Regions from separate parts of the Homo sapiens genome. Here regions 1 and 3 are each reported to be linked to region 2. The links are microRNA targets in miRTarBase. Many come from high-throughput screens and were not tested one by one. Region 2 holds a microRNA gene; each other region holds the end of a gene's coding sequence.
What was found. Region 2 holds the annotated microRNA hsa-miR-582-3p (UAACUGGUUGAACAACUGAACC, at 2,188-2,209, opposite strand). A microRNA usually pairs through its seed, bases 2 to 8, with sites in the 3' UTR of a target mRNA and lowers its output. Matches are read on the target gene's strand: a 7mer-m8 pairs with bases 2 to 8, a 7mer-A1 pairs with bases 2 to 7 and ends in A, and an 8mer does both.

Region 1 (3,298 bases), not on the chromosome of region 2:
TACATGCAGAGCCCATCCACTCCACAGTTACGCTGCCATGCACCCACACTGCCTGCACACGCACACTCCACACAAGCACACCCCACCTCCTGCCATCTCACAAGCATGCTCTCAAGCCCTCGCTCCACAAGAGCTCTGATCGGCCTGCCATATGTAGTCTGAGCCCCATCGGCTGCTCTCCCCAGGCCTCTCTAACATCAGGGGTTTATTCGGGCTGCCTTCTGTTCAATTACGACATGGGGAGAAGCCCAGAACCTGGAATGCTGATTTCATATTTTGTAGTTGATGAGGAGCTCAGAACTTTGTCTTTAGTCTCGCTGACATCACTCAGCCCAGCTGCATGTGGCCAGGTCTCTCAAGATCGACTTTGTAAGTGGCTCTCTCTAGCCCACAAGCCCTGGAAGCCACCATCAGAGATTTGCATGCACTGAGGTTCCACTTGGGGAAGATAGCTTTGCCCATATACATCCTAGTGCAAATCCATGCCAGTGTTTCTCCATGGGTATAATGTTGACATGGGACAGGATGATTCTTTGTTGTGGGGACTAAGTTTAGCATTCTTAGTAGTGCCCCCACGCATGGGGGCAACCAAAAATGCCCCCCCTACAATCTCAGTCACCTCTATTGAAAACCATCAAACAAAAGCCATGGACAAGAAGCTTTAAGCATCAGAGTCAAGGTTTCTAATATTGCAAAGACTAAATAATTCCAAGGGGGGTGGGATGGAAAGAAAGAGAGAGAGAGTGTGTGTGTCTGTATGTGGGTTGTAGAGATGGGACACAGAGATGAAGACAGGACAGACTTGGAACTATCCCTGCAATTAATACCTGGCTTCCCAGATCCCTTTCCAAGCCAAAAAGATGTTTTTAGACAAAACTTGCCAAGCCTCACAACAGTCCTGTGAGGTAGGTAAGTATTATTACACCCATTTGGTAGATGGAAAGAGCTGAGCTGAGAGAAGCTGCATGATCCATCTAGAAATCAGCAGTAGACCCTGGGGAGGAAAGAGAGGATGGTGCCCTTCTTCTCCCTACTCTACGTGCCTTGGCTTTCTCTTAAGACAGAAGGAGGAGCCCCAAGGTGCTCTGCCTCTTCAAATGTCACCATTGAGAAGGAAGAAGAAAACAGTTTTGCATGAAGGTAGCTATAAGAAGTTTTCTGAATGGCTGGTGGCTCTGGTCTGTCTGCTCCCAAAGCCAGGAAAATCTGAGCCCCAGCCCATGACAGGTTCTGGGTAGAGAAGAATGGGAGGCGCACAGGCAGATCAGACGGGGAACTGGTGAGCCCAGCAGGTTGGCTAAGGGACACTGGCCACAGCCACGGGCACCCTGCAGGTACTACTGGTCCTCAGTCTCCCCCCACTCCACCCTTGCGAGGCTTGCAGCTGCTTTTTGACAGGGAGAGCTCTGAGGTAGACCCCAAACTCTCTGAAAAAGGGGGCTACTCCTCTCTCATCCCTCCTAGGGGCCCAGAAGACAGGGCATCAAAAAATCAGTAAGGGAGAGAGGGATTGGAAGTAGATGGGCAGAGAGGCTTGTTACCACTTTTCCCTGCCATCCCTGGCCTCACCAATTCTGCCCAACAAGGACTCAGGAGATCCCACTCCCAACATCACCACCTCCCCCTAGGGCAGGCTAGAAACCCCAATGGGAGCACCTGGCCGACATCTCCAAGATTCAGTCACTGGCCAATTCCAGCCTCATGGCCCCCTCTATGACCCTGGGGAGGGGAGGGCTGGCGAACCCTCACCAGCACCACACCAGACTCTGCTGTTATGTCAGGACATACCGTCTAGAGAGGATGGGGGTAAGGGCTAGGATTCAGGACTAAGGCACATTCTAGCCCCACACACAAGGGCTGTGCAAACCAGCTCTGGGAGAAGCAAAGGAAAACTGTGGGCACCCACTCCCTGCTCCTCCCCAACCCCAGGGTGGGAGGGGGTGGCCCAGCTGAGCAGGAAGCAGCTGGGAAACCCAAGGACCCCCTCATCCAAAGGAAGAGAGTCCCTGAGGCGAAGGCAGGCCCTTGACCCAGGGCTGGGAAATGAACCACCCTGGGGGCAGGGCGTGATGGAGGGCACGGTGGGGGGGGGGGAGCGAGCCAATGGGAGGTTGGAGGGTGCAGCCTCTCAGGTAGGAGGGGGAGAAGCAGGGGAGAGCTGGGCTCAGGAGTGCCCAGAGTGGCGATGGTCCTGCCATGCCAGGGGAGGGGCTGCCAGCATTGGCAGCAATGGGGCGGGCATCCCAGAGGCCCAGGACACTGGCTCACTACCTCTGTGGCCCAATTCCCCAAGTAGAAATGCTTGGAAAGGCATAGGGAGCACTCGGGTACTCCAGGAAGGCTCGAGGGGCCCCTTCCTGAGCCCCTCAGTAACCCAGAGAGCAGAGGAGCAGGCTAGGTGGCCAGGAACCCTCAAGACCAGGGTGGCCAGCCCTGGTTGAGAGGGCTTAAAAACTCTGAGCAGGGGAGGGGATAGGCAGATAGGGTCCCGGGGCAGGGGAAAGGAAGTTTCCTACTTGGAAGACTGTGGGGGATCTGGTATCCTATGAAGCAGAGGCAGTCTCTCACTGTGGGCCTGCCCCCATCAGCCCCCACCCCAGGTCTTCTCCAGAGGCCTCCAGCCCACTCCCACCTCCAAAGGAAGCCACTTCTTCCTACACCCCATCTCCAGGGTGCAGCTCTTAGGACATCCCTTACGGATCCTCCCAGTCTCTTGTGAAGAGAAGCCTGGAGGAAAATCAAGGCCCTGCTTGTGCAGGGTAGGGAGACTGAAGGAGACCCCATCTGCCCAGGTGTCAGGGGACCAGCCCCTCCACACCACCCTAGCCTCTCCTTTCTTTCTCCTGAATCTTCCACAGACCCCCTCCCCTGGCCATCCCTTGTCCCTGGGGAGCCCTGACTGGGAAGGGGATGGGCAGGCTGGGCAGGACTCTGGTTTCTTGTGCCCGGAAAGACTACAGTTTGAGCCAAGCAGCAGATGTCTCAGGCACGTGGGTTCTACGGTCGGGGCTCAAGCATCAGTTTCATCATCAGAAAGGGGGCTCCCTGCAGCTGCTCAGCCCGAAGCAGGGCTCACACTTTTGAAGGTGGTTTCTCCTCTGCCTTGGAGCCAGGCAAGCCGTTCTCCGTGTTGTCATTCCCCGAGGAGCTCACGAGACACTCCTTCCTGGAGAGGGAGAGAGAAGGGACAGTGGTGAGGAGAGGAGCAAGAGTAGGGGGAGAATTGTGGCAGGAGCCGTGGGCCCTGCACCCAGCCCTGTGCCTCTCCCTGGCCTTCTACAGAGCTAAGGTAGCCAGA
Region 2 (3,000 bases):
AACATAGTACTGTAGATACCCATACAGGTTTTGTTAAATGAGTGAATGAGTGAGTGAGTGAATGAATGCTTTTCTCTAGAACAATTAATACTGAAAAGCAAATGTAAGCACAATGGAGAAAATGCCATTCCTTAGAATTCAAGAATGAGTGTGAGGGATAAGCCCAAGGAGTTTCACAATTATGGAAAGTCACACTCAGACAGTGAGAATAGAAGTGCTGGTTGTGGAAGGTGAAGACTCCAAGAGGAGCAACACAGAGGTGAGGAGATGGTACCAGCAAGACAAGAAGGCTGTGTGGTGCATAGTTGATGTGAATCTTCTTCACAACTTCTCAAAGCTTTAGTACAGTTCACACATGCTATGTGTTCTTGGATCCCTTGTGAAAAACAGCTCAATTCCTCTACAGCTTTGCATCCAGACCTGAGGCCCAGCAGAAGGTAAAAACATATAAGATGGACACAGAGTTCTGGAGGCAGAGAGTGGCATAAAGGTGTCAGGTGTGGCACTAACATAGAGGTCATGGCAAAAGTTAATCACATTTCCAAGGGCCAAGAAAGCACTGGTCAATAGAAATATGACAGAAAAGAATGAAGAGGGAAGCTAGGTGAAAGAGGTTTTCATACATCAACAGCAACATCACCTGGAAACAATTTTTGATTAGTTAGGCACTTACTAATTATTCCCTGCTTTTCTTTTTTTGAGATGAAGTCTCACTCTGTCGCCCAGGCTGGAGTGCAATGGCACAATCTGGGCTCACTGCAAGCTCCCCCTCCCAGGTTCACGTCATTCTCCTGCCTCAGCCTCTCAAGCAGCTGGGACTACAGGTGCCCACCACCACACCCGGCTAATTTTTTGTATTTTTTAGTAGAGACGGGGTTTCACACCATATTAGCCAGGATGGTCTCGATCTCCTGACCTTGTGATCTGCCTGCCTCGGCCTCCCAAAGTGCTGGGATTACAGGTGTGAGCCACTGCGCCTGGCCAATTATTCCCTACTTTTAAAATAAATTATAATCGTGCTGAGAGAATAAAAAAATTAAAGGAAAGAGTTCAGTGAGCCGTGATCATGCAACTGCACTCCAGCCTGCTCAACAGACAACAAACAAACAAAGTTATCATTCAAAATGTTTCCCATGGCCAGATGCAGTAGCTCCTACCTCTAATACCTGTAATGCCCGCACTTTGGGAGGCCAAGGCAGGAAGATGGCTTGAGTCCAGGAATTTGTGACCAGCCTGGGCAACATGGCGAAACCTCATCTCTACAAAAAATACAAAAATTAGCTGGGTGTTGTGGCACATGCCTGTAATTCCAGCTACTTGAGAGGCTGAGGTGGGAGGATCACCTGAGCCAGGAGAGGTCAAGGTTGCAGTGAGCCATGATGGTGCCACTGCACTCCAGCCTGGGCAACAGAGTGAGACCCTGTCTCAAAAAAAAAAAAAAAAAAAAAAATTAGACCAAAAAACAAAAACCCAAAAAGCCAAAATGCATCCAAGTATCATAAGTGAAAAAGTGAGCTTCTTAGCAGCCAATATGCAAAGGGAACATAATCTCTTACACAGTTTGGAATTACTCAGAAAACGTGGAACTGTCTTCAATCCTAAAGCGTCACATAGAAATGTTCCCTGAGTCTCACTGGGACAACACACTGAGCAATAGCTTTACCAGAATGTTTTGTGAATATGGTATGATATCAAGAGTAATAAAGTTATTTTGGAAAAAAATAACTTTAGAATAATCACTTAAAAGTCTGCTGTTTTTGACCATAATTGCACATGGATATATTGCCTTATATAAACTACAAAGAATTGTCTATTTCACATCACATTTTACAACTTACATTGCAAACCTCACTTCAGCCTTGAGGTACAACTATCAATAAAAGAAACAGGTCTTATTTTTAAAACTTTTTATTATTCATATCCTTGGTGACTTTCAGACAATAATTAACATGTGGTTAGTATCACCTTAATGGAGGAAGTACCTTATACTTCAAACAACCCTTACCAAAAGAACAGATAATACATATGTATTGATACAGCATTACAAATTGATGATAATTCAAAAAGGCACCATGTAGCTTGTACTTGAGAAGGAATTTTCCCTTTGCATATTGAAGGGGGTTCTGGTGGTGTTTTCTTTGTCCCCAGCCGACTTCACAATGAAATGTTTCTACTTTGCACCCTTTGGGTTCAGTTGTTCAACCAGTTACAATTAGTTAGATTAGTAACTGGTTGAACAACTGTAATCAAAGAGCACAGATTGACTTGTTGTGGTCTACTAGAGAGAGATTTGCTAGTGGTGTTCAGCAGGGCTCTGTCTGTCCTCTTCAATGTGTGCATGAATGACTTGAAGCAACATACATACATTCAAGAAAAATTCATTAAACATTGAATCATCATCTAATATTTGCCTGCTATTATGACAGGTCCTGAGGGAACCAAGAAAATGTCAGTTACATGGCTCTGATGCAAAGCTGGGAAGAAGGAGAAGGAGTCAGAGGTAGAGGCAGAGAGAGTAAAAGAAAGAGGGAGAAAGTGAGAAAGTGAGACAGAGAAAGAGAGGGAGGCCATGTTACACAACAGGAAATGTAACACATGACCTCCAGCTCGAAAAATTTGAATAAAAAGATATTTCAAGGAGTGCGAGGGAGGTAACCCTTACAATTATTAGAATGAACATTTACTCATTGTCAACACTATGGAGCACATATTTGGGAATTCACCTTTATTTATGCCACACAATATTATGTAGGTGACAAGCTAACCCGTCGTATTTAACAATATAAACAAAAACACAAATATCCTACTTTATTAAACTGAAAGCAGAGGACTCTCATCTCCCCAAAGCCCAGGCCATTCCCTGATATTAGTAAGGATACTAGGTGAAACTCCTTCTTTCAACATTTATTGTAATTAGTGAAAACATGCTTAATGGGACACCATCATCTACAATGATGACACCATATCTCAAATCACTAATCTTTCTGCCATGGACAGATT
Region 3 (3,000 bases), not on the chromosome of region 2:
TTAGCCTGGACCTTTCTGAGCCATGCGCTAAGAGGTGGTCTCTCTCTAGCTGTCCTTCCCTCATGAGAAGCTACTGCTTATGTCCACAGACCAGGAGGAGCTGTCACGCTGGTACCACAGTCTGACTTGGGCTATCAGGTAAGTTGTGTCTTCCCCCAGGAAGGGTGCTGTGATGAGGCCCACAAGCAGGAAATATGCAGTTCCTGTCTCATGCCCTACATTGGTCTGGCACACCCCAGCCACCAACCCCCAGATGATTTTGTCTGAATAAAGCACTCATACCAGTGCCTGAACTGACTGTCTTCTCTCCACAGCAGCCAGAAAAACTAGAGGAATCTTATAGATTCCAGAACTCAGGATACCTCAGGGATAGGTCACAGCCAAGAGTACAAAGGAATCTTCAGTACTGAACAAAACAGAACCCTTCATGATTTGACAAAGGTCACTTTCTGTTTGCCTGGACCAAGCTACTCCAGATCATCTGACCAACTCTTAAAAATCACGGCCAGGCACAGTGGCTCATGCCTGTAATCCCAGCACTTTGGGAAGCAGAGGTGGCAGGATCATTCCAGCCCAGGAGTTCAAGACCAGCCTGGGCAACACAGTGAGTGAGACCCTGTCTCTATTTAAGAAAAAATAATTAAGAAATTTTATTAAAAAAGAAGAATCAGGAAACCAAGTCCAACCCAACTAAACCTCAAATGAACCAGCCCCTAACACAGATGAGGGGATTTGGGACTGATAAGCTCTGTGCTGTGTCCATGGCCCGTCATTTATCAAGGCTGCAGCTTTGTAAATGTGGCTATTTTTATGTTGTGTATAGTTTCTATCATTTATTTTTCCACTGGATTTGAGTAAAGTTTTTTTTCTTTTTTTTGGGAAAGACCCTTCTGTCTCAGTTTTGCTATGAGAAAAGGGATTTTTGGGCCCTGAACGCGGGCATGCTGGTGGCCTCAGGAATACGAGGAAAAGAGCTGGAGCTCCCTCTATCTTCTCTGCTGTCACACTGGAAGGCAGCCTCTTTTTGTCCTAATAAGGACAGCTCTTCAAGAAGGCCCAGTTGTCCTTAGGCACCTAGTATGGGTGTGTACAACCAACTAGGATCGAAAAAACACACAGGAGCACTCCATCATGAAAACAGACTTTGTTTTAGTCGACCTTCAGCTGTCGTCCCTCCTTCCCAGCCAAGGCTGTGACTGGGGCCCTTTGCCACAGCCTGGCTGCACCTTCTCCGTAGTCCCCGCCCCACCTCCCAGGAAGTAGCTAGGTTCCATGTCTCTGTGCTCCAGTTTGTGGGCTCCTCCCAGGCCTGACTGTCACCAATCTCCTCCTCGTCCTCCTTTAAACAGAAGTCCTCAGGAAGAGGTCTGCTGGCCTCTGTGTGGGGAGAGATCAGGAATGTTCCAGTTTCAGAGACTTTGTCTCCACCTCCAGCAGACTCGCCTCCCGAGCCTTCACCTGGTTCTGAAGCCTCCATATCCTTGTCCGGCTTGCTATCTTGCAGCAGCTCGTGGATGGTCCATAGCTTCATGTTCAGAAGCTCCTGCTGGGCTCCAGCCAGAGTAGTCACACTGAAGAAATGTCCACTCAGTGGCTCCCAACCTATGTCCCCATTCCTCCCTCCTGCCACAAATTCCCCAAAAATTCACAGAATCATTGCTCTCCTCACCGCTCAAAAAGGGGGTCCAGCTGGGCCATCAGGTTGTTCAGGTGCTGCTCTGTCTGGGCCAGCTGTTGTGTCAACTGGGCCAGCTGTTGCTCTGGGGATAAGGGAAAAAAGGGGGCAGAAGTGGTTATGTATCTTCTGCTGTCCCCTAAACTCCCCCGACCCAGCACAGACTTCTGCTAAACCCACCTGACTGCAGTGGCTGCTGCTTGCTTGCCTCCTCGTGGAGAACCGCAGTTTCATCTTTCCCCTGTTGTGGAAGAAGGAAAGGGCAGTACTGAAGCAACAAGGTTCTGCTCCATCACCTCAGTCTCCAGAGCCAGCCAAGAGAGAGTGCAATTTGAGATGGAGACAGTGATTGGGTTTTTACCTCAGAGAATCACAATCCTAGTCTATCTAGCTCCTCACCCAGCATATGAAGCGACGTCCTATGTCCCACACATGGTCAGTTTGCTGAAACACCTCCAGGAATGAGCAACTCCCTCCGGTTTGAAAAAAGCTCTGGTGGCTGAGTGCTGTGGCTCACACCTGTAATCCCAGCACTTCGGGAAGCCAAGGTGGGTGGATCACCTGAGGTCAGGAGTTTGAGACCAGCCTGGCCAACACGGTGAAACCCTGTCTCTATTAAAAATACAAAAATTAGCCGGGCGTGGTGGCAGGTGCCTGTAATCCCAGTTACTTGAGAGGCTGAGGCAGGAGAATCGCTTGAACCTGGGAGCCAGAGGTTGCAGTGAGCCGAGATTGCGCCGCTGCACTCCAGCCTGGGTGACAGAGCGAGACTCCATCTCGAAAAAAACAAAAACTTTGGTTGTTAGACAGTTCATGCACAAAGCCAAAATTTGTCCTTTATGTATCTTCTTTCCATAGTGCTTACTGGAGCCTTCCAAAATAATGTCTCCTCAAGGTGACAGCCCCTCAGGAATTTGAAGGCAATGGTCACACCCTCACCCACTTTCCTGAGTTTTTTCTGGTTTATTAACGTCAGTCTTTACAGTCAGTGCTCATTGACGGTGGTTTTCTCTGGTTGTTTCCTGAACACGTAGTGCTCTTAAAGCAATGCCCTGAGGAGAATACAATTCTCCAGGGGCATTCTGATTGGCAGGTGAAGCACAGTGCCATGTTCCCAGCACTGATTTGGGAAGTGGCTTGTCACATCCCACAGTGAACTCAGTCAACTGGAATGCCTAACTCTCTTTCATAAGACCTCCTGCTACATTATGTTTCTCCCAGACTGTACTCAGGTCCAAGAACAGAATTTACTAGTCTATCCTTCTCAAAGTTCATCATTAAATTCAGTCATTCATCCTAGCCTGTCACATCTACCTGGGGTCATT

Region 1: the mRNA of SCN4B is a reported target of hsa-miR-582-3p. Seed matches in the 3' UTR shown: 7mer-m8 at 1,275-1,281.
Region 3: miRTarBase lists ARHGEF39 as a target of hsa-miR-582-3p. Seed matches in the 3' UTR shown: 7mer-A1 at 2,338-2,344.

Annotation. Positions count from the first base shown.
Region 1 is chr11:118,133,955-118,137,252 of GRCh38, forward strand. SCN4B (sodium voltage-gated channel beta subunit 4) reads right to left here. Exons shown (of 5, transcript NM_174934.4): 5 at 1-3,166. The coding sequence ends at 3,073. Among named protein-coding and RNA genes, the nearest start is that of SCN4B, 17 kb to the right of the region's middle.
Region 2 is chr5:59,701,443-59,704,442 of GRCh38, forward strand. It overlaps MIR582 (microRNA 582), which reads right to left and starts at 2,261; the gene lies at 2,164-2,261. All of the region lies in intron 1 of PDE4D (phosphodiesterase 4D), which reads right to left.
Region 3 is chr9:35,659,317-35,662,316 of GRCh38, reverse strand. It overlaps ARHGEF39 (Rho guanine nucleotide exchange factor 39), which reads left to right. Exons shown (of 9, transcript NM_032818.3): 8 at 50-138; 9 at 315-2,974. The coding sequence ends at 330. CCDC107 (coiled-coil domain containing 107) reads right to left here. Exons shown (of 5, transcript NM_174923.3): 3 at 1,856-1,916; 4 at 1,670-1,760; 5 at 806-1,571. The coding sequence ends at 1,130. Among named protein-coding and RNA genes, the nearest start is that of CCDC107, 2.5 kb to the right of the region's middle. RefSeq lists a silencer at 271-565.